7 linked regions of the Homo sapiens genome follow. The protein of the gene in region 1 binds, or shares a complex with, the protein of each later gene. Each region holds a gene or a part of one and is shown in the gene's direction. Other genes may lie near its edges.

Region 1 (2,353 bases):
TCTACTGGGCAGTTTCATTTTTAGTTGATCAGGTTTTAAGTTTTTGAACTAAAATTTTTCTTTTTCTTTTTATGATGAATAAGGTTAAAATAAAAGCCTTAGACAAATTAAATTTGGCAGAGTTTAATTGAGCAAAGGACAATTCACAAATCAGGTAGCCCCTGAACCATAATAGGCTCAGAGGCTTCAGCCCAGCTGCATAGTTGAAGATTTATGGACAGAAGGAAAGTGATGTATGGAAAATGGAAGTGAGATACAGCAACAGCCGGATTAGTTACAGTTCAGCGTTTGCCTTATTTGAATATGGTTTGAACAGTTCGCTGTCTTTGGTTGGCTGAAACTTAGTGATTGCCACAAGAGTAGGGTACCGTCTGTTTACACGTCCAGTTAGGCTACAGTTCTATGTACTGAGAAACCTTTAAGCTGAACTTGAGATATGTAAAGAGACTTTAGGCTAAACTTAACAATATATATAGGATATATACCCTTCTACTTCACATGCACTGAATATGCATTTTATTGCTTTACTCTTCATTCTGTGGCACCTACCCACAGGGGAAGTAAGAAGTTTGTTTTGGTATTTCGGAAACTAAAGTCCTTATGGGATGGGGTCTAGAATTGATTCTCCTTTCCTGAGTTTTACTCCACGGAGTCTTAGGTACCTGGTAAAAAGTTGTCTTCTAAATTAAGGGTCATTGCTTTGTTGTCTAGCTGCTAATGTCTTACTTTTGTTTCTTTTGCTTTTTAATCAGTTCTTAATAGGATATAGTTTTATGTTTTCCAAGTTATAACTTGGAGTTAATGGTCACTAGATTATCAGTTATGAGCAGTGTTAAAATCTCCTATTAATGTGTAATGTACCTGTCAGTGCCTCCTTTATTAAGGGGTTCTTTGAGAATAAAAGAGAAAAGACCTACTTTATTTGACAGCAAAACTGTTCTAATTGTTAATAAGGACTTTTAAAAATTGTTTTTGATTTGCTAAGCTCAGAAAAAATGTCTCTCAGTGCATCAGTTCTTTGTAAAGCTTACTACGAAGTATTTATATGCTAAGGAAAACAACTGAGGATGTGGGTGGCTTAAATCTGTATTTTCATCATGTATGTGAGTTTTTTTTTTTTTAAGTAAAGAAATTTTCTGCAAAGATCGTTACCTTAAAAAAGTTTAGCCTGGGTGTGGTGGCTCACGCCTGTAATCCCAGCACTTTGGGAGGCCGAGGCAGGTGGATCACGAGGTCAGGAGTTGAAGACCAGCTTGGCCAAGAGGGTGAAACCCCATTTCTACTAAAAATACAAAAGTTAGCCAGGTGCAGTGACAGGCGCCTGTAATCCCAGCTACTCATGAGGCCGAGGCAGGAGAATTGCTTGAACCCAGGAGGCGGAGGTTGCAGTGAGCCGAGATTGTGCCACTGCACTCCAGCCTGGGCGATGGAGTGAGACTACGTCTCAAAAAAAAATCGAGAGAGAGATATATATATGTATTTATATATATATGTATTTATACTAATATATAAATATATACTAATAGATATATTAGTATACATGTAGAATGTACCTGTCATATATATTAGATATATAAATGTATATATTGGTATAAATAAATACTAGATATATATTTTTTTAAGTATCTTACCTCATCAAGTAAATTCAAATGCTTTTTGATTTTTCCACAGTTGATAATTTTTTTTTGTAAGTCATTGAAGTTATATAGTAATTAGCGTTTTTTCCCCCACAAATTATTGGCAGTGGTCACCCAGTTGTATTACAGGTTCTATGATCCAAAAAGGGATGTATGAAATTCATGATGATTAAGACAATTTTTTCTTTCTTTCTTTTGAGACAGAGTCTTGCTGTGTCACCCAGGCTGGAGTGCAGTGGTGCGATCTTGGCTCACTGCAACCTCTGCGTCCCGGGTTCAAGAGATTATTGTGCCTCAGCCTCCAGAGTAGCTGGGATTATAAGCGTGCGCCACCACACCCAGCTAATTTTTTTGTATTTTTAGTAGAGACGGGGTTTCACCATGTTGGCCAGACTTAAGACAATTCTTTAATAGTAAATATATTAAAGGTGAGTTGGCTTGACAAGATACAACCAATATGTAATTTTTCTCCACACGTTTTTTTTTTTTTTTTTTTTTTTTTTCTGGAGACAGTCTTGCTCTGTTGCCCAGGCTGGAGTACAGTGGCGCGATCTTGGCTCACTGCAAGCTCTGCCTCCCGGGTTCAGGCCATTCTCCTGCCTCAGCCTCCCGAGTAGCTGGGACTACAGGTGCCTGCCACCACACCCAGCTAATTTTTTGTCTTTTTAGTAGAGACGGGGTTTCACTGTGTTAGGATGGTCTCGTTCTCCTGACCT
Region 2 (3,500 bases), on another chromosome or scaffold:
GGCATGTATTCACATTTTTAACATTTTTTCTTTTAATAGAAATACGTTTATTATAGAACATTTTTATTCCCTTCATTTTTCCCTTCTGTTTATTTGTAAATAATATTTACTTGTCCTCCATTCGTAAATGTTTTTTAAATTTAAAACACAAATATGTGTTTTATTAGGAAAAGTTAAACAGCACAAAAATATATAGAGTAAAAAGTGAAATCCCATTTCTTCTACTGGTAATCACTACTAAAAATGGGATTATCTTGGCCAGGTGCAGTGGCTCATTCCTGTAATCTCAGCACTTTGGGAGACTGGGGCAGGAGGATCACTTGAGGCCAGGAGTTCTCTGTGTTGCCAGCCTGGGCAACATAGAGAGACCCTGTCTCTACAAAAAATAAAATTTAAAAATTGGGTTACCTTTTCTGTATGTTTACACATATACACTCATATATGTACATGTGCACATACTTGCATTATGTACACCCTACCTCTACAAAACATGGATCTTGCCATACATGTTTTTCAGTACCTTTTTTTTTTTTCACTTAATCTTTCTTGGAAATTGATCATGAGTGCATTTAATTTTCGTTTATTCTTTTTAATGACTACCTAGGATTCTGTATATGATAGTGATCGATTTTTTTTCATTTCTTGCTACAAATACGTAAATACTTGCAGTAAGCATTTTTTTACATATTTCTTTGTGCATATCTGCAAAATATCTGTAGAATTGGTCCCTTGAAATAATCCCATTTGTTCATAGAGAACCCTGAAGGTTTTGCCTCTCCTTAATGACTTGTTACTTTCCTAAGTGTGTTGTTTTTAGTATTGCTACTCTACCCTAAAGTGATTAAAAATAGCTAACATTTATTGAGCATTAATTATAGACCAGGTACTATTATTCTAAGCATTTTGTGTGTGATATCTCATTTAATCTTTATAACAACCCTATGATGATACATACTAATTATTCCTGCTTTGCAGTGTAGGAAGCTCAGGCTCAGAAAGGTACAGTCACTTGACGGTAAAGGGAGAGCCAGAATTTGAATCTAGGTTGTCTGACCTGAGCCCCACTCTTAAGTACTGTGGTTCCGCCTTCCACAAAACCTAAAGATAAAGAACCTCTGGGCTTGGAAAGGAAATAGGGACCCAGGGAGACAATCTACAGCTGGCCTTAAAGGAAGAGAGACTCCAGGAAAGGAATGGTGGTAACTTTGGGAATACAAATGGAATTGAGTTTAATTACTTAAGTTTGTGGCTCTTGGAGGCTTCTTCAGTTCCCTGTGTAAACTTGATGGTCTCTATCCTAAATGGCCCCAACTTTCTGTTTGTTTTGTGCCTCTCAGCTATACATGTTTGATCTTGTTAGTGTGCCCTGCTTAGCAGTTCCCCACATGGCTGACAAGTGACTTTTATTTTGATGTGAGCAGGTGAACCATGTAACACGTTGTTAGAAGTAAACTTGAGTTCTGAACAAGGTCCCAGAAAGTGCACCTTTTAGTAAAATGAATGAACTTTGGAGCTTGGATTGAATATCTTAGCTGTAACATTTATTGATTGAGCCCACAGGTACTAAACACATTTAAGTTCTGGATAGGTTAGAAATGGGCAGGGTGTTGCTCTACTTACTTTCTCTCTGCGACATGTGGTCTACTGTGTGCCTTTAGAAGACTGCAATGGCATTATCTTACCAGTAAACAAAGGATTTTATCTTCTTTACTGTATTTTTCTTGTCAGATTGTTATAGGTGAAATTGAAGGATGTCTACTGATAAATGATGAAGATGAATCTGCTGTTTTTCATAATTAAATATTATAAATGATGTGACTGCCTTAGATAACAAGTGGGGTGGAGACTTTAAAAATAATTTCAAGTGATTTGAAGTAAATTTATTTTTGGCAATATAAGCAGTTTTATATTTTTATCAGGTCAATTAAGTAATCATTGGAAGTGACTTGTGAAGAAACAGTATATTAGTACTGTAGGATTACTTTTTATTTGCATGTAAAAGTTTGTGATGTAAGTATCAAATGCCCTAGTTGTAATTGAGCAATTTGCATATTGTTAAGCCTTTATCATTTTTGTAATTTGATTATTAAATTTCTTGGTTCTGTACCCTCCCACTTTAGGCTTATGATCAACATTTAAATATGATCTTGGGAGATGTGGAAGAAACTGTGACTACTATAGAAATTGATGAAGAAACATATGAAGAGATATATAAAGTAAGTCATGCAATTCTATTCATTGCTTTGCAAATATCAGCTGTTCTCTCTCGAACAGCTTAACCCATATTTATGGGAAGCCTGTCATGTTTTGACACCTACTTATGGACTCAGTAGAGCATAGCAATTAAAAGCAAGGGTTCTGGCATCTGACAGACCCTGTTGCCAGTACTGGCTTGACCACTTCCTACTTGGGCTACCTTGGGCAAGGGAATTAAGTTAGCTGAGTTCTCATTGGTGAGCAGGAATACTACCACTTACCTCATAGGGTTCCCAGATTCAGTGAGATACAACAATGCAAGGTGGCTATGTATAATAGTGTGTAACAGTAATAGTGGACAGTGTTCTTTCGTTTTCTGTGGATTTGATCTATTAATACTTAATTTATTAGAAACTGAAACTGAAAAATTTTTTAAATATTTATTCATTAAAAAAACCTGGGCCGGGCGCGGTGGCTCACGCCTGTAATCCCAGCACTTTGGGAGGCCGAGGCGGGCGGATCACGAGGTCAGGAGATCGAGACCATCCCGGCTAAAAAAACGGTGAAACCCCGTCTCTACTAAAAATACAAAAAATTAGCCGGGCGTAGTGGCGGGCGCCTGTAGTCCCAGCTACTTGGGAGGCTGAGGCAGGAGAATGGCGTGAACCCGGGAGGCGGAGCTTGCAGTGAGCCGAGATCCCGCCACTGCACTCCAGCCTGGGCGACAGAGCGAGACTCCGTCTCAAAAAAAAAAAAAACCTGGCCAGGCATGGTGGCTCACACCTGTAATCCTAGCACTTTGGGAGGCTGAGGCAGGTGGATCACCTGAGGTCAGGAGTTCGAGACCAGCCTGACCAATATGGTGAAGCCCTGTCTCTGCTAAAAATACAAAAAATTAGCTGGGTGTGGTGGCATATATCTATAATCCCAGCTACTTGGGAGGCTGAGGCAGGAGAACTGCTTGAATCTTGGAGGCGGAGGTTGCAGTGAGCTGAGATTGTGCCATTGCCCTCCAGCCTTGTCAACAAGAGTGAAACGCTGTCTCAAAAAAAAAAAGGCTGGGTGCAGTGGCTCATGCCTGCAATCCCACCACTTTGGGAGGCCAAAGCGGGTGGATCACCTGAGGTCAGGAGTTCGAGACCACCCTGGCCAACATGGCAAAACCCTGTCTCTACTAAAAATACAAAATATTAGCCGGCCGTGGCGGCAGGCACTGGCAATCCCAGCTACTCGGGAGGCTGAGGCAGGAGAATCACTTGAACCTGGGAGGTAGAGGTTGCGGTAAGCTGAGATCGTGCTACTGT
Region 3 (3,500 bases), on another chromosome or scaffold:
AGCGCTTATGACATTGCCTGGCATATGGTGAAATCTCAACAAGTATTTATCATTATCCCTGGATATAGAAGTAGTTAAATTTATTGTAGTACCTGGCCAGTCATAGATGTTTAGTAAGTATTTATTGACTGAATAACATTCTTCTCATTTTCTCATTGTTATATATTTAATAGTTCCTCAGTTATTGAATGTTTTATGATTATAGTATCTTTCATCTGATTTTTAAGGCATGAATCCCATCACAGAAATACATAGTGCTGAAAAAGCTTAATTGGGTATGAACCAACTCTTCAGGGCCACAGAGAAAAGCTCCATTTTATGACCACAGTTTACATACTTCAGGCCAACCAGCTGGGTCCTTAGTTGTTTAAAGACTAGGGAACAAAGAGGCTCAAAGGGAAGGAAAGGGGAGGCTCTACGAGTACATACTCGATCAATGGGATGAATACTGTCCACAAGCAGAGCATCTTAATTCCCAATCCACAGGATATATATACACGTAGCAAAAGCTGGACTTTGCTCTTTAGATCCAGATATTGCATACTAGTTAAGCTTTCATCCCAAGTAAATCTAGATTAAAAAACTATGCTATCTTGTATTTCCATTCAGGACAGCCAAGAGAAAAATGGATGAACAGAGTTTCTTCGGTGGATTGCTTCATGTGTGCTATGCTCCAGAATTTGAAACAGTTGAAGAAACTAGAAAAAAACTACAAATGCGGAAGGCATATGTAGTAAAAACTACTGAAAATAAAGGTATGGAAAGCATATTGCTAAATGCCTCCTGTGTGTCAGGCACTCTGCCAGGTGTGTCATCATGCAATTCCCAGTCTAGTGGTAGGAGAGGCAAGTAAACCATCACAGTATTCAGTAACTGTGAACCACAGGGTTCTCTGCAGCACACTACATAATCTGGGTTGAGAAGGGAGAAATATTGGTTCATAGAAGACTTCCTATAGTATGTGAGAAGTGGCTGAATTTTAAAGGATAAGTAGACGTTAACTAAATGGGAGAGGAAAAGATGGAAAGGCAAGCCAGGCAAGATGTTTAAATGTTTAGAGGAATAAATGAGCATCATGCATTTAAGGAACTTTAATTAATACAGTATAACCAAAGCCCAAAGGTTTCAGTGAGAGATAAGTTTAGAAAAGTGGGTAAGAAGTGAATCATGGAGGGCCTTGTGTCCCATGCTAAGGAATTAAGGCTTTGACCAGAATGCAGTGAGAAGCAGTTATGATTTGCAGTTGTCAAATCATATAGTTGTCACTGCTAATCATGGAGAAGTTCTACTTTTGACCAGCAATTGGCTAAATGCCCCCACATGCCTGTTCTACCACATAGTGATGGAGAGAAATAAAGTGGGAAAACTCTTGGAAAACTTACTCAGAAATCTGGTAAGAGAGCTGTTGAGAATCCCCAGTCATCTGCAGACATTGAACTCTAACTTGTAAGATAAGTAAATAAATAGCACCAGGAAAACTTGTATGTTTGTGTGGCAAAGGAAATTATAAAATATTAATGTGGAGAAAGACCTTTGACATTATCTGACCTGGGTCCTAATTTTTCTGGGTGAGGAAACTAAGTCTCAGAAAGTTTGTGACCTGCCTATATTATTAGAGATGAATTAAAGACAAAATAAGGGTTAAAACCCAAGCTTTGGACTCTGTCCAGAGTTTACTTTTTAACTGCTTTAATCATCTCAGTGTTGGTGACAGCCTAGGATTATCTTCATTATTTGCTCCCCTTCCTCTTAAGACCTTTTTGCTGTGCTGCTGACCTCAGAATTAAACTATGACTTGTTTGGCCTTGGACACTTTAGTTAAGCTCTCTTTCATCTGCAGCATTCTAGCCTCTACAAGATGCATTTGTATACGTGGTCTTACTTTTCAAAAACTCTTATTATGGAAATTTCAAAACACACAGGCAGAGAGACTAAGTTAACATAACTCCCATGTATTAATATTAACATTAACAATCATCAACACATAGCCAATTTCATCTTTACCACATCTTCCATACTCCATTCCTGTTGTAATCTGCTTTTGGGAGAGTAAACCAGGGAAGAGGCCCTTGCCAGCCCTAGAAGTGCGACAAGCATATTGCTTTCTTTAGTGACTAACAAACACAAGCCAAGGAGCATGATACATCCAGATAGTGGAATACTCTGAAATTGTAAAAAAAAAAAAAAAAAAAAAACCTTTCTATATAATGATGAAAAACCTCTGTAAGATCTACAGTGAAATGGAAAATGCAGAGGTGCAGAGAAATGCGTATTACAGGTTATCTTAAAGTGGGGAGAAAATGGGAGGAAGGAGGTGGCAAAGTGAGACATATTGAACAGATAAATAAAAAACAATAGTGATTACTTATGGGGATGAAACCAGACCCATGGAGAGCAAGGAAAGGGTGACACTTGATGCTATATATCTTTTTATCCGTTTTAGGTTTTAAACCATGTGAATATATACCCTTCTCAAGAAATGATTTTTTTGGAGTAGAATTTGTTAACATTTTTAAGTGATTTTTTTAAATTATATGATTCTGAATGATGAAAACAATAAACCACTTCTGTTTCCCTTTCCCTCAACTTTTAAATTGTAATATAAAGACCATTACGTGACAAAGAAGAAATTGGTTACAGAGCATAAAGACACAGAGGATTTTAGACAAGACTTCCACTCAGAGATGTCTGGATTTTGTAAAGCTGCTTTGAACACTTCTGCAGGGAACTCAAATCCTTATCTTCCGTATTCCTGTGAATTGCCTTTATGTTATTTCTCCTCAAAATGTATGTGTTCATCCGGGGGACCTGTAGACAGAGCACCAGACTCCTCTAAGGATGGTAGAAACCATCATAAAACAATGGGGCATTATAACCACAATGACTCTTTGCGGAAAACACAGATAAACTCTTTGAAAAACTCAGTGGCCTGCCCTGGTGCACAAAAGGCTATTACGTCTTCAGAGGCAGTTGACAGATTTATGCCTAGGACAACACAACTGCAGGAGCGCAAAAGAAGAAGAGAAGATGATCGTAAACTTGGAACTTTTCTTCAAACAAACCCAACTGGTAATGAGATTATGATTGGACCTCTGTTACCAGACATCTCTAAAGTGGATATGCACGATGACTCATTGAATACAACGGCGAATTTAATTCGGCATAAACTTAAAGAGGTAAGGTTATTTTTAAAAAACTATTCTAAGACACGATTTGGTTATAGGATTAAATGGAGAATTATTTGTGGGAACAATAGTACTGTAATTTTTTTTCACTTTTTAGTGTTTTGATGTGTTTTTCTACAGTTCTCTGTTGAAATAACTGAATTTGGCTAACATTTTATTTGCTTTAAACTGTTAATACTTGCTTTAAACAATGAACAGACATTTTATATCACTGTAGATACAAAATATTAAAGCAGTGGTTTCAGCCAATTAAATCAATCTGTGAGAGTGGAGCCCAGGCCTGCCATTTTTGTTAAAAGCTCCCCAGGTAGTTCT
Region 4 (3,230 bases), on another chromosome or scaffold:
CCCAGGGAGGCTGGCAGGTCACCCCATCCTGGGAGGAGAGAGAGTGGGCGATAGAACCCAGGACGGGTGGGCCTGGGGCTCGGGGCTCCAGCTGCCTCACTGCACCCCTGCCATCGCCACCGCCTCACAGCCCTGGGCATATGGGTTAAACCTGCCCCAGGGAGCCTGATGTCTTGTCACCCAGGCCTCTGCCTCTTCATTTGGCCATCTCACATCGGTCCAGGCACAGGCCGTAGACACCACAGGCCTGTAAGGGAGGCCAGGGCTGGCCATCGCTTCACTGTGGCTGACAGCTGGGCTCTGTTTGCAGTTTGGATTGGAACCCTGGCTCCATCACCTGCTGGCTGTCTCCCTGGCCACATGACTTGAAGCCTTGGTTTCCACATCTGAAAAGGGGGTGCAATGATCACACCAGCCCGATATTTGAATATTTGATGAGATGATCCGAGGGGCGTGCTTAGCATGGGGCTGGCATCCAGGCCGAGTGCACTCCCCCCGGCGTCTCCACAGTCACCACCGTCCTCGTTGTCAGCGTGCCTTACTGTCATCCTTACCTGATGGCCACTTATCAGCTGGGACATGGCTCTGTGCCCTGCCCTCATCCCCTCTTCCTGTGAAGTAGGAGCTGAGAGCACACACCTCTAGAGCCCAAGGGTGGAAAGCCCCCTTCCAGGACCCCAGGTAGAGCCAGAGGAGGAGCGCGCGCGGTTGCTTTGCTGTTACCTCTGTCTGTCTGTCTCACACAGATTCCACCCCCGTTTTCCGTTGCTCCAGGATCTGCGGCGGAAAGCGGCCCGGCTGGTGGCCGCCAAGTGCACACTGGCAGCCCGTGTGGACAGTTTCCACGAGAGCACAGAAGGGAAGGTGAGGAGGGAAAGGTGAGGGGCGGCCGGGCGTCTTTTCCTCTGGGCCTGGGGTGTCTCTGCAGGGAGACCCTCAGCAGGGAGCCCACCCCAGCGAGCACTGTCCTACCAAGGCGGAGGCAGTGCTTCTGCCCACCCTCCCTGGGGTCAGGCACCCCCTTCCCCAGTGGGGTTTCCTAGGTCTGCTGTTGGAAGGTAGCATGAACCTACTGGCTTAAAACAGTGCAGGTGTGGCCGGGTGCAGTAGCTCACGCCTGTAATCCCAGCACTTTGGGAGGCCAGGGTGGGCGGGTCACAAGGTCAGGAGTTTGAGACCAGCCTGGCCAACATGGTGAAACCCCATCTCTACCAAAATTAGCCGGGTGTGGTGGCACGCACCTGTAATCCCAGTTACTCAGGAGGCTGAGGCAGGAGAATTGCTTGAACCTGGGAGACGGAGGTTGCAGTGAACTGAGATTGCATCATTGCACTCCAGCTTGGGTGACATAGCGAGACTCCATCTAAAAACAAAAACAAAAAACAGTACAGGTTTATTATCTGTGGTCCTGTAGGTCAGAAGTCCAAAATGAGTTTCACTGGGCTGAAGTCAGGGTGTCATCCTGGAGCGTTCCTTCTGGGGGATTCAAGGGATAATCCATTCCCTGGTCTTTTCCAGCTTCTAGGGGTCACTGGCACCCCTTAGCTCGTGGCCCTCCCTCTGTCTGCGGAGCCAGCCACATAGCACCCTCAGACCTCTCTCTGACTCTGCTTCTGTCTTCATATCTCCGCCTCTGTTTTTGTTCCCCTCTTCTATTTTAAGGGCCCCTGTGGCTATACTGAGCCTACTCAGATGGTCCAGGATAGTCTTCCCAGCTCACAATCCTTAAAATCCTTCTTAACCTCTTCACGTCCCTTTTGCCCTGTGATTCTGGGAATTAGAACATGGGCCTCTTTGGGCATGTGTGTGTTGGTGGGGGCGTAATTTGCCTTCCACACCAGGATCTGTCCCCGCTGCAACAGGGGATGTTATTCAAGTAATTATTCAGTTACCTTCTGTCTTCCTTGGTAGATGTACTCGGGAGAGGAGACGTTTTCTGTCTTGTGAACTGTCGTTTGCCAAGCACCCGGCCTGGCACAGCGTTCAGGTGTTCCGTGTCCCCTTCTCCTTTCCCTCTCCCCATCTCACCCCTGGTCTGGGTGTGGGGGTGCAGCTGTGAGTAGCACAGACAGGACCCCTGCCCCGTGGCGTGGACATTCTTGTTGGGGCCGGGTCAAAGAGACAGTCAACAGGTGAACTCTGTCCTGCGTCTAGCGGTGCTAAGTCAACACCAAGAAGAAAAAGAAAGGGGGTGGCGGTGAGGCAGCATTAGGTGCTGATTTAACTAAGGCACGTGGATACTCGGGGGGCCCGCTCAGAGGAGGCCTGGGTGGGCAGCCCACGCGAGCAGCTGCAGGACCTCCCCCTCGCCCTCCCCAGGTGGGCTACGAACTGAAGGATGAGATCGAGCGCAAATTCGACAAGTGGCAGGAGCCGCCGCCTGTGAAGCAGGTGAAGCCGCTGCCTGCGCCCCTGGATGGACAGCGGAAGAAGCGAGGCGGCCGCAGGTGAGGGGCCCTGGGGGTCCGGTAGGCATGGGGGTCATGGAGGGGAGAAGCCGGCGTCCTCCTCCCAGCCGACTCCCTGGCGCCGCCCACCCACCCGTCCCCAGGTACCGCAAGATGAAGGAGCGGCTGGGGCTGACGGAGATCCGGAAGCAGGCCAACCGTATGAGCTTCGGAGAGGTCAGACTCCCAGAGCGCCCTCCTCAACCCCACAGCCAGCCAGCCGCCACCGCCCTCTGCCTCCTGCCACCGCCCCTCCTCTCGTCCTGTGGCCCTGGCTCATGTCTAGGGCGCTGCCCCAGCCTCCCCCCCCCCGGCCTCTATTCTCGTTTCCATCCGTTCAGCCCCAAAGCGACCCTCGCGACCCTTGGAGCCTGTGTCTCCGCTGCTTAGAGCCCCCGCGGCTTCCCATCGCCCCGGGCTCCTTGGCCGGTTCCTCCCTGCCCAGAGGCTCCTTAGTGCCCTGCTGCACGGCCGCCCCGTCCCTGGGCCCCGCCAGTCTCCTCTGTTATCCCAGCGTCATCCCCTTGGTCCTGCAGGACCGAACTCAGAGGCCACCTCATCCTATTAAACCTGTTCTGGTTCCTGACATCCCCCGACCCACACGAGTAAGGAAGGAATGGCCTCCCAACTCTGAGCTCACAGAGCAGTGCTGGGACCGGGCCCCTCTCAGGCTCCCCAGCATCCCCCGCGTGTGTGGGCCCCCAGGCCTCAGCCGGGCCGAGTGGGTACCGGAGCAGGTGCCCGTGGGACCGGCCGGCTGGTGACCGCTGGGCTTCGGGCTGG
Region 5 (3,500 bases), on another chromosome or scaffold:
GGGCATCCAGATTGGAAAAGAAGAAGTTAAATTATCCTTGTTTGCAGATGATATGATCTTATATTTAGAAAACCCTAAAGACTCTACCAAAACACTATTGGAACTGACAAATTGATTAAAGTTGCAGGCTATGCCCCCAGGTGTGGTGGCTCACACCTGTAATCCCAGCACTTTGGGAGGCTGAGGGTGGGTGGATCACCTGAGGTCAGGAGTTTGAGACCAGCCTGGCCAACAAAGAGAAACCCTGTCACTATTAAGAATACAAAAATGGCCGGGCACGGTGGCTCACGCCTGTAATCCCAGCACTTTGGGAGGCCGAGGCAGGTGGATGACTGGAGGTCAGGAGTTCGAGACCAGCCTGACCAACGTGGTGAAACCCTGTCTCTACTAAAAAAATTACAAAAGTTGCCAGGCGCTGGGACTCACGCCTGTAATCCCAGCACCTTGGGAGAGTGAGGTGGGTGGATCACTTGAGGTCAGGAGTTTGAGACCAGGCTGACCAACATAGTGAAACCCTGTCTCTACTAAAAATACAAAAATTAGCTGGGTGTAGTGGCACACGTCTGTAATCCCAGCTACTCAGGAGGCTGAGGCAAGAGAATTGCTTGAACCTAGGAGGCAAATGTTGTAGTGAGCTGAGATTGCACCACTGCACTCCAGCCTGAGTGACGGGGCAAGACTCTGTCTCAAAAAAAAAAAAAACCAAAAAACAAAAATTAGCCGGGTGTGGGGGTGCACGCCTGTAGTCCCAGCTAGTTGGGAGGCTGAGGCAGGAGAATCGCTTGAACCCAGGAGGTCGAGGTTGCAGTGAGCTGAGATTGCACCACTGCACTCCAGCCTGGGTAACAGAGTGAGACTCCATCTTAAAATAAAAGAAAATATCCATACTACCCAAAGTAATTTACAGATTCAATGCAATCCGTATCAAAATACTGGGGACATTATTAACAGATAGTGAAAAAATAGCCAGGTGCAGTGGCTCATGCCTGTAATCCCAACACTTTGGGAGGCTGAGGCAGGTGGATCACTTGAGGTCAGCAGTTCGAGACCAGCCTGGCTAAACCCCATCTCTACTAAAAATACAAAAATTAGTTGGGCATGGTGACAGGTGCCTGTAATCCCAGCTACTTGGGAGGCTGAGGCAGGAGAATCACTTGAACCTGGAAGGCAGAGGTTGCAGTCAGCTGAGATCGTGCCATTGCACTCCGGCCTGGGCAACAGAGTGAGACTCCGTCTCAAAAAAAAAAAAAGAAAAAGAAAAAATAATTCTAAAATGTACATGGAGCCAAAAAAGACCCAGAATAGGCAAAGCTATCCTGAGCAAAAGGAACAAAACTGGGGGAACACTTGACTTCAAATTATACTACAGAGCTGTAGTAACAAAAACAGCATAGTACTGGCAGAAAAACAGACACATAGACCAATGGAACAGAATGGACCCAGAAACAAATAGGTACCTCTACAGTGAACTCATTCTTGACAAATGTACCAGGAATATTTATTGGGGAAAAGACAATCTCTTCAATAAACGGTGCTGGGAAAACTGGATATCTATATACAGAAGAATGAAACTAGACCCCTCTCTGTCACCACATACAAAAATCAAATTAAAAGACTTTAAGACCTCAAGCTGAAACTACTAGAAGAAAACATTGGAGAAACTCTACAGGACATTGGACTAGGCAAAGATTTCTTGAGTAATACCCCACAAGCACAGGCAACGAACGGAAGCCAGGTGTGGTGGCTCGCTCCCGTGAGCCAAGAGTGCGCTACTGCACTCCAGCCTGGGCCACAGAGACTGTCTCAAAAAGGAAAAAAATAAAAAGTTCTCATTATAGAATATTAGGAAAATAAGAGTAAGTATGGGTAAAAGCATAACATTTATTCATAAGTCTAGAAAGTAACAGTTAACATTTTGGCTCATTTCCTCTTTCTGTTGCTTTTTTTTATCTTGGCTCACTGCAACCTCTGCCTCCCGGGTTCAAGCAATTCTCCTGCCTCAGCCTCCCAAGTAGCTGGGATTACAGGTGCCTGCCACCACGCCTGGCTAGTTTTTGTATTTTAGTAGAGACGGGGTTTCACCATGTTGGCCAGGATGGTCTCAAACTCCTGGCCTTGTGCTCCATCCACCTCGGCCTCCCAAAGTGCTGGGATTACAGACGTGAGCCACTGCGCCCAGCTCTGTTGCTTTTTATACATGTAATCATAACTTCCTGTGATGTATGTAGAATGTTTTATTTTTTGAAGATAATTTTAGAATAGTAAAATATAGTTCTTCTGGAATTTTATTTATTTTTTATTTTTTTGAGTCTCCCAGGCTCAAGTGATTCTTCTGCCTCAGCCTCCCAAGTAGCCGGGATTATAGGCACGCGCCACCACACCTGGCTAATTTTTGTGTTTTTAGTAGAGACAGGGTTTTACCATGTTGGCCAGGCCGGTCTTGAACTCCTGACCCCAAGTGATCCACCCGCCTCAGCCTCCCAAAGTGTTGGAATTACAGGTATGAGCCACCGTGCCCAGTCTTGCCACACACTTTAAACAACCAGATCTTACGTGATGTAAACTTGCTGCCTCGAGGACAGCACCAGGCCATCAGGGGTCTGCCCTCAAGACTCAAGTGGCCTCCCACCAGGCCCCACCTCAAACATTGGGAATTATAATTCAGCATGAGATTTCATGGGGACACAGATGTAAACCATATCCTTTGGCCTCCCAGAGTGCTGGGATTACAGACATAAGTCAATGTGCCTGGCCTGGACATCTTTTTAGAAGCTCGTTATTAAATCATTGTGCATAAATTTTATACCTATAGTAATTAAACGTGAATGGCATTGCATTTCACTTTTTTTTTTTTTTGGATACAGGATCTTACTCTGTCACCCAGGGTGGAGCGCGGTGGCTTGATTATAGCTCCCTGTAACCTTCAATTCCTGGCTCAAGCGATTCTCCTGCTTCAGCCTCCCAGGTAGCTGGGATTACAAGCACGTGCTACCACACCCAGCTAATTTTTCTTTTTTCTTTTTTTTTTTTTGAGATGGAGTCTCACTCTATTGCCCAGGCTGGAGTGCAATGGCGCAACCTCGGCTTACTGCAACCTCCGCCTCCAGGGTTCAAGTGATTCTCCTGCCTCAGCCTCCCAAGTGGCTGGGATTACAGGCATGCACCGCCACGCCCGGCTGATTTTTGTAGAGATGGGTATTTTTAGTAGAGACGGGGTTTCACCAATGTTAGCCAGGCTGGTCTTGAACTCCTGCCCTTGTGATCTGCCTGCCTTGGCCTCCCAAGGTGCTGGGATTACAGGCTTGAGCCACCACGCCAGGCTCACACCCAGCTAATTTTTGTCTATGTTGCCCAGGCTGGTCTTGAACTCCTGGCCTCAAGTGATCCACCTGCCTCCCCTAACCTTGGCCTCCCAAAGTGCTAGGATTACAGGCATGAGTTACTACACTCAGCCCTACATTTTAAAAATTGATTGGAACCTCCAGGGTTAATGCATTTTA
Region 6 (3,324 bases), on another chromosome or scaffold:
TTAAAAATGTCTGCAAGGGATGTTAGCATATCTTGGTTCAAAGTCCATGTACATATTCAAATCTCTTAGTACCTACTTCCAGTAGAATTGGCTGGTCTAACATAACCCATCATAAACCTTTGTGATCACAACCAGTTGTACCATAACCATGTCATTTGCAGATAAGGCAACTCAGCCCGGGATTGTGGGATTATTTGTCCATTGTCACCTAGCGGATTAGAATCAGCTGGGAATGGATCTCATGTCCCTTTAATGCCTTGCCTGCTGAACCCTGAGTGGAACCCTGGCCCTTTGCTCTTGGTTTAACTTTCACAGGAGTGCATATAGGTGGTTGAGTTGTGGCATGTTTCTCTAGACTTACTCTTAAGTTCTACCCTGCTTCAGGGATAACTCATAGTCTTGGATGGAGGAAGAATGGTGTTGGCACACATGGAGAGGTAGTATTTATAAGCTATTTCGATAGTATTTATAAGCTATTTCGAGGGGCTCTCTTGGCAATGATATTCCAAAGTATACTTCTGATCTTCAGATCACTGGGCATCAGAGCATATTTGTTTATTTTTCAGACTGGTATTGCTCGAGTTCCACTTGCTGGAGCTGCCGGGGGCCCAGGGATCGGCAGGGCTGCTGGCAGAGGAATCCCAGCTGGGGTTCCCATGCCCCAGGCTCCTGCAGGACTTGCTGGGCCAGTCCGTGGGGTTGGCGGGCCATCCCAACAGGTGAGGAGTTGGGGAAAGGGTACCACCTCCTGGTGGCTAAAATAAAGGATAAAGGGGAGGGTCCATAGTTTTAAAAGGGTCCAGAGTGACCAACCTGTGATTGTCAGACTATCAGTGTTTCACTGTGGTTTATACATGGCCCTAGAAGCAAGTGAAAAGGATAAGTTGCCATTGTAAATTATGTTGATGCTATTAAAGAGATGTACGAATTAGCCAACTGTATTTAAGGAAAATATTTCCATGACAGCATTTGAAATCATGAGTCATATTTGAAAATGCAGTTGCCTTCTCTCACTTGGATTGGACATGCTTACATTCAGGTCTAGAAGATGGGAGTTGGGCATTCAAGCTTGATCTTTCCCGACATGTGGTTTTGGATGGGAAGTCTGGTGCTGAGAGTTGTAGCATTAAGGGATTTGGTGTCTGTTATTTCCCACTGTCCTTCCCCAAGTTGGGGAGGAGAGTGGGAAGCTGCATTGTACTGTACTCTTCTAACTCTTTCTTCTTATGTCCTCTTAGGTGATGACCCCACAAGGAAGAGGTACTGTTGCAGCCGCTGCAGCTGCTGCCACAGCCAGTATTGCCGGGGCTCCAACCCAGTACCCACCTGGCCGTGGGGGTCCTCCCCCACCTATGGGCCGAGGAGCACCCCCTCCAGGTGAGGAGCCCATAAGGAGACCAGTGCTAATTGATAGAAGATGCCTTAGCTGGATTAATGATGAGATATAACCTTGACTGAAGCTGATGATGAGTTTGTATAATTAAGCAGGATTACTCTGAGATCCAGCGTGGCTGACTGATGAGACTAGGTGGACAAGAGCCATTGGGAGCCCTGGGTGTTAGGCTCAAATGTCAGTTTTCTGGGAGCTGCTGAGAGGGTGGAATGGTCCATCTATCTCAGAACTTGGTGGAAAGCTTTGTAGTTTTTTTGCTACCTTTTCAAGATAGACACTTGAGCTATATTCTTGGGGCTTTTCTCTTGCAGGCATGATGGGCCCACCTCCTGGTATGAGACCTCCTATGGGTCCCCCAATGGGGATCCCCCCTGGAAGAGGGACTCCAATGGGCATGCCCCCTCCGGGAATGCGGCCTCCTCCCCCTGGGATGCGAGGTAAGTGCCTGCAGTGGTGACTTTGGCTTCTTTCCCTAGAGCCTAGTGGGATAGGAAATGGAGGGAAGATTGCATTTAGATCATATCCCATGGGCTTTCAAGCCTTAAATCTAGGGAAATCCAGAAAGGAAAGAGAAGAGGGAACATTTCTTAAATTGGGCTTACCTCCCCTCTTAGAAAAGTTAGAGCAGCCATGCACCCAGGGTGTTTCTCAATATCTAAGGCAGCGGCCTCAGGACACAATGAAATAATGCATTCTGAGGATCCCTAACAGAAGTTATGAGATTGTCTTATGCTCTTTGGTTTGACAGTGCCTAGTAATTAAGAGGGGGCTCTGGGCTTTGCTGTACTATTATGGATTTCTCTTTAACTTCAGTTGGAGAAATTCTGAGATCAGTCCCCACATGGATGAGAAAATAGGCCCCCAGGGAGTTTGGACTCCAAGCCCAGTGTTCTTTCCCTATAAGATAACCCATGGGCAAACTTGGTGACCCCTGTTTCTCTAGTCTGGATTATTCCTCTATGGGTTTTTATAGACATAGGAACCCAGTCAGCCTCAGAGTAGTCCCTAGTTAGCACATATGCCATGTATACCCCTCTCCTCACTCGATTACTGCAGGGCGTGGGAGGCTGGGGCAGGGTTGGGGATTCAAGTTGCAGATCAGGCACTGACTAAACTTCTTACTCTTACTTCAGGCCTTCTTTGACCCTTGGCCACAGAGTATGGAAGTAGCTCCGCAGAGGCGTGGGCTCGATTCCTCAGGGCCACGTTACCACAGACCTGTTTGTTTCTTATGCTGTTGTTCGTGGAGTCTCATGGGATTGTCTGGTTTCCCTTACAGGGCCCCCTCCCCCGGGAATGCGCCCACCAAGGCCCTAGACTCATCTTGGCCCTCCTCAGCTCCCTGCCTGTTTCCCGTAAGGCTGTACATAGTCCTTTTATCTCCTTGTGGCCTATGAAACTGGTTTATAATAAACTCTTAAGAGAACATTATAATTGCACCTATGGATCTTTATTTTTAGAAAAATCTTTGATATATTGGGTGCTTAATAGAGTCAAGAAGGGTTGCCTTGGAAAAAATTAACCCTGATCTTACCTTCTTCCCTATAAAATGTTTTACTACCCATTTGCATCTGTACATCCTCATACACTAAGATACTTACAAAATTGAACATTTTCACTTATCAGATTCAAAGATCAGTTTTGTTGAAATCAGTACCCATAATATCCTCTTGGGAAGGCACTTGTCTAGATAGCTTCTCCATGAAGCAAATGCTAAAAATGAAAATTCTGCTGGGAGAGGAACAATTTTGGCATAACTTTCTGCCAGGGTCACACACGTAACATATAACCTAACGTAACTTTTGAATTGTGGTATCTTCATGAGTTCTTCCACCCAAAGCCTGTGTTCACTGAGCAGCACTCTAGTACTTAGTGCATCAAGCTCTAAGGGTACAAAAATAAGGTGAACACTGTTGTAAAGTTACTGTGTA
Region 7 (3,500 bases), on another chromosome or scaffold:
GATGTTCTGTACTCTTACTTGCTGGTCTCAGCCAAAGTGTGTGTTTATATAGGCACAAAGTTAATAAATGAAACAAGAGGTGGCTTGAACCATTTTCTTGCCTTTTGAAGCTGTGTCATTTAGGTTTATGTGTTTGGCATAATTTAATAAACTGAAAAACAGTAAACTATAAAATGTGTAATAGACAGTTACTTTTCCCTCAGGGCATACACAGACTGCAATTACTAGAAATTATTTCTCTCTATTTGAAGAAGATCTGCTGATGTTGCCTGTTTTCTTTTTAATAGGAGAAGTGTTTGAAATTGAAGAGCATATCAGCGAGCGACAGGCAGAAGTATTGGCTGAGTTTGAGAGAAGGAAGCGAGCCCGGCAGATCAATGTTTCCACAGATGACTCAGAGGTCAAAGCTTGCCTTAGAGCCTTGGGGGAACCCATCACACTTTTTGGAGAGGGTCCTGCTGAAAGAAGAGAAAGGTTGCCTTTCTAAATATTTACTTTTTTTCTTTATTATAATCACAGGGTTCTACTCCAAATTTTGGTTGATCATTTAGTTGAACTTTAATAGAATGTCTCAAATCATGTTAACAATATCTTACTGTGTTTATATGAGTTAGCCCATAATCTGTCTTAGGCCAATTTTTACCGCACTATTAATGTTTCTTTTTTGTGTTTGTTCGTTTTTGTTTTGTTTTGTTTTGTTTTGTTTTGTTTTGTTTTGTGTTTTGAGACAGAGTCTTGCTCTGTCACCCAGGCTTGAGTGCAGCGTCGTGATCTCGGCTCACTGCAGCCTCCGCCTCCCGGGTTCAAGCGATTTTCCTGCCTCAGCCTCCCAAGTGGCTGGGATTACAGGCACCTGCCACCACATTTTTCTTTTTTGTATTTTTAGTTATTTTTTATATTTTTGTATTTTTAGTAGAGACAGGGTTTCACCATGTTGGCCAGGCTGGTCTTGAACTCCTAACCTCAAATGATTTACCCACCTTGGCCTCCCAAAGTGCTGGGATTACAAGCGTGAGCCTTCGTGCCTGGCCCGTTTTTCTTTATAGACTTGGAAGAGGGTGCTAACATGCTCCCTTGCCTCCCCTCCCCAGTGCGAGTTTTGAATTGGATAAACATTTGTTGTTGGGCTTTGAAAATTGAGACATCAAATGCATTCCATATCAATGACATAGAACAATGATAAATGTTTCTTGGATTTTATTGAAGAGGGGTACCATCCTCAGATAATGCCCTCTTGTTATTTGCAGGTTGCGAAGTCTTAGTTGTGGTCTAGTCACACACAATTATGAGGAGCCCCTCTGGTCTCTCTGTCCACTGTCTCATCTACCCTTCATCATCCAGCTTGTTGGAAGGGTTTTTTCTATTACTCCCTTGAGGTCCTTACCCTTATTTACTCTTCAACCTGCTGCAAACTGACCAACCCCTACCACATTAAAATTGCTCTTTGTTAAGATCACCAATCCACCTTTACTAAGAATAGCCCTAGTATACTGCCAGCCACTCCTCCTTGAAATACTCCCTCCTTGAACTACTCCCTTTCCTTCACTCTCCTAATAACAAATCCTCTTGATTTTCCTCTTCTCTCACTAGCTAATTCTTCTCACTTACCTTCTAAACCTCTTTTTCTCTGCCTGCCCTTTACAGGCTGCCTTTTTCTCTACTTGCCCTTGGTGATCAGCTCTACTCCCATGGCATCATTCACTGTGTGTTCTGATGATTCCCAAATCTCTCACTGCAGCTTAGGTATCCCACAGGTACTTCAAACTTGAGACATCTGAATTGAAATATTTCCCCACCTCTCTCCTATACTCATACAATTCTTAGTTGAAAATCTGCCTAGCCTCCTTTATAATCCATTAGCAAAATCTGGTCTGTTCTACTTGCGAGATACAACTCCAGCTATCTTCTTTGCTCTATCTTTACTGCTTTCAAATCTGCACTGTTGTGATAGCCCCAAACATGTTGTGTTAATTGCTTGCTTAAAATCCTAGATTGTCTTCTCATACTTGGAGTAAAAAACTCTTACCATGGTCTGTAAGGTCTTCAGCCTTACTCATGTCTCCCTTCCCCAATTTACTAGAATAGCCACATTGGTCCTTATGGAATATGCTAGTTCTTTTTATGTCTTTCCACATAATTGGTCTACTTTTATTCTTCTGTCTTGTCTTTTAGAGGCTTTTTTTCTTCCTTTTTTTTTCTTTGAAACGGAGTCTCGCTCTGTCACCCAGGGTGGAGTGCGGTGGTGCAATCTCAGCTCACTGCAACCTCCACCTCCCAGGTACAAGCCATTCTCCTGCCTCAGCCTCCCAAGTAGCTGGGACTACAGGCATGTGCCACCATGCCTGGCTAATTTCTGTATTTTTAGTAGAGACGGGGTTTCAACACGTTGGCCAGGTGTTGAACACCTCCTCAAGTGATCCTCTCAACACCTCCTCAAGTGATCCGCCTGCCTGGGCCTCCCAAAGTGCTGGGATTACAGATGTGAGCTACCGCGCCCGGCCTTTCTTCTTCATTTTTTATTAACCTGGATCCCTGTCAAACTTCTTATTCTTTCGTTTCAGCATAGATGCCACCTATTCAAAGAAGCCTTTCGTCACACCTAACCCCTCTGTTCTCTGTCATAGTATGTTATTTTATTAGCCTTTTCAAAGGGTATACTTTTTTATTATTGTTTAGTTTGTTTTTTCCACCAGCAAAGTCTATCTTATTCATTATTATGTTCCTTAAATGAATCCTTTGAGTCACTACTGCTACTATCTGAATTTCAGTCCACGGTTGTGACTCAGAGCGTCACTACAACAGTACTGTCTGATTTCCCTGCCATTATTCTTCCCTTTTAATCCATTCTTTGTACTGTTTCAGGGATCTTTCTCATCTGTAAATCCTCCTGAGCGTGGCATTAGCAATTCTTTGTGACCTGGCTCCTCCTTGCATTTGCAGCCCTATTCTTCACCAGTCCTCTTCTATGTTCTACGCTCCAGCCATATTGAATTATTTGTGACTGCAAGCTCAACATGTTTTTCTTACCTCCAGGCCTTATTTGTTTAACCCTCTGCCTGACATTTTCTCATTCTTGACCCCCTTGACCTGATTAACTGAGGACTCAATTTACATATTACCTTTTTTTAATGAAGCCTTCCCTGATCCTCTAAGCTTAGTTAGATGCCCGTTACAAAGTCCCCTCTAGCCCTCTGTGCTTACTGCTATAGTGATAGGTAATATAATGGATTATAGTTTGCCAGTACTCTCTGTTGTTTCCCCAGGACTAAGCTACTTGAAATCAAGAACTGATTCCTAGTCATCACTGTATAGTTAGCACCTGAGTCAGTATCCAGTACATTGTGGCACTGAGTGAAAGTTGGCAGTCTTCACAGACCAAGTGGTAGCAGTGTAGGGGCTCATTGACTCTAAACTGTATAGAGTAATTGCTTATAGTTGAATTTTGGAAATTTCCAAATAGAGAAGACTGAGTGGGAGAAACCACACTGGGAGTTTAGCCA

Evidence for each region.
Region 2: SNRPD1 (region 1) and LSM3 share a complex: the UniProt entries of both Homo sapiens proteins name them as parts of the U4/U6-U5 tri-snRNP complex.
Region 3: SNRPD1 (region 1) and RBM48 share a complex: the UniProt entries of both Homo sapiens proteins name them as parts of the minor spliceosome.
Region 4: SNRPD1 (region 1) and PRPF31 share a complex: the UniProt entries of both Homo sapiens proteins name them as parts of the U4/U6-U5 tri-snRNP complex.
Region 5: SNRPD1 (region 1) and PRPF6 share a complex: the UniProt entries of both Homo sapiens proteins name them as parts of the U4/U6-U5 tri-snRNP complex.
Region 6: SNRPD1 (region 1) and SNRPB share a complex: the UniProt entries of both Homo sapiens proteins name them as parts of the SMN-Sm complex.
Region 7: SNRPD1 (region 1) and PRPF4 share a complex: the UniProt entries of both Homo sapiens proteins name them as parts of the U4/U6-U5 tri-snRNP complex.

What each region holds. Positions count from the first base shown.
Region 1 is NC_000018.10:21,629,314-21,631,666, forward strand, and holds part of SNRPD1 (small nuclear ribonucleoprotein Sm D1), read left to right. Parts: 3' UTR 1-2,353. UniProt on the Homo sapiens protein: Plays a role in pre-mRNA splicing as a core component of the spliceosomal U1, U2, U4 and U5 small nuclear ribonucleoproteins (snRNPs), the building blocks of the spliceosome.
Region 2 is NC_000003.12:14,181,817-14,185,316, forward strand, and holds part of LSM3 (U6 snRNA-associated Sm-like protein LSm3), read left to right. Parts: intron 1-2,120; coding exon 2,121-2,216; intron 2,217-3,500. UniProt on the Homo sapiens protein: Plays a role in pre-mRNA splicing as component of the U4/U6-U5 tri-snRNP complex that is involved in spliceosome assembly, and as component of the precatalytic spliceosome (spliceosome B complex).
Region 3 is NC_000007.14:92,531,795-92,535,294, forward strand, and holds part of RBM48 (RNA-binding protein 48), read left to right. Parts: intron 1-609; coding exon 610-755; intron 756-2,443; exon of another isoform or gene 2,444-2,607; coding exon 2,608-3,176; coding exon of another isoform or gene 3,177-3,290; exon of another isoform or gene 3,291-3,500. UniProt on the Homo sapiens protein: As a component of the minor spliceosome, involved in the splicing of U12-type introns in pre-mRNAs.
Region 4 is NC_000019.10:54,125,754-54,128,983, forward strand, and holds part of PRPF31 (U4/U6 small nuclear ribonucleoprotein Prp31), read left to right. Parts: intron 1-746; coding exon of another isoform or gene 747-774; coding exon 775-864; intron 865-2,319; coding exon 2,320-2,447; intron 2,448-2,551; coding exon 2,552-2,624; intron 2,625-3,230. UniProt on the Homo sapiens protein: Involved in pre-mRNA splicing as component of the spliceosome. Required for the assembly of the U4/U5/U6 tri-snRNP complex, one of the building blocks of the spliceosome.
Region 5 is NC_000020.11:63,987,632-63,991,131, forward strand, and holds part of PRPF6 (pre-mRNA-processing factor 6), read left to right. Parts: intron 1-3,500. UniProt on the Homo sapiens protein: Involved in pre-mRNA splicing as component of the U4/U6-U5 tri-snRNP complex, one of the building blocks of the spliceosome.
Region 6 is NC_000020.11:2,461,142-2,464,465, reverse strand, and holds the end of SNRPB (small nuclear ribonucleoprotein-associated proteins B and B'), read left to right. Parts: intron 1-566; coding exon 567-719; intron 720-1,238; coding exon 1,239-1,377; intron 1,378-1,418; exon of another isoform or gene 1,419-1,514; intron 1,515-1,704; coding exon 1,705-1,830; intron 1,831-2,526; coding exon 2,527-2,537; 3' UTR 2,538-2,672; coding exon of another isoform or gene 2,673-2,710; 3' UTR 2,711-2,824; downstream 2,825-3,324. UniProt on the Homo sapiens protein: Plays a role in pre-mRNA splicing as a core component of the spliceosomal U1, U2, U4 and U5 small nuclear ribonucleoproteins (snRNPs), the building blocks of the spliceosome.
Region 7 is NC_000009.12:113,278,658-113,282,157, forward strand, and holds part of PRPF4 (U4/U6 small nuclear ribonucleoprotein Prp4), read left to right. Parts: intron 1-287; coding exon 288-474; intron 475-3,500. UniProt on the Homo sapiens protein: Plays a role in pre-mRNA splicing as component of the U4/U6-U5 tri-snRNP complex that is involved in spliceosome assembly, and as component of the precatalytic spliceosome (spliceosome B complex).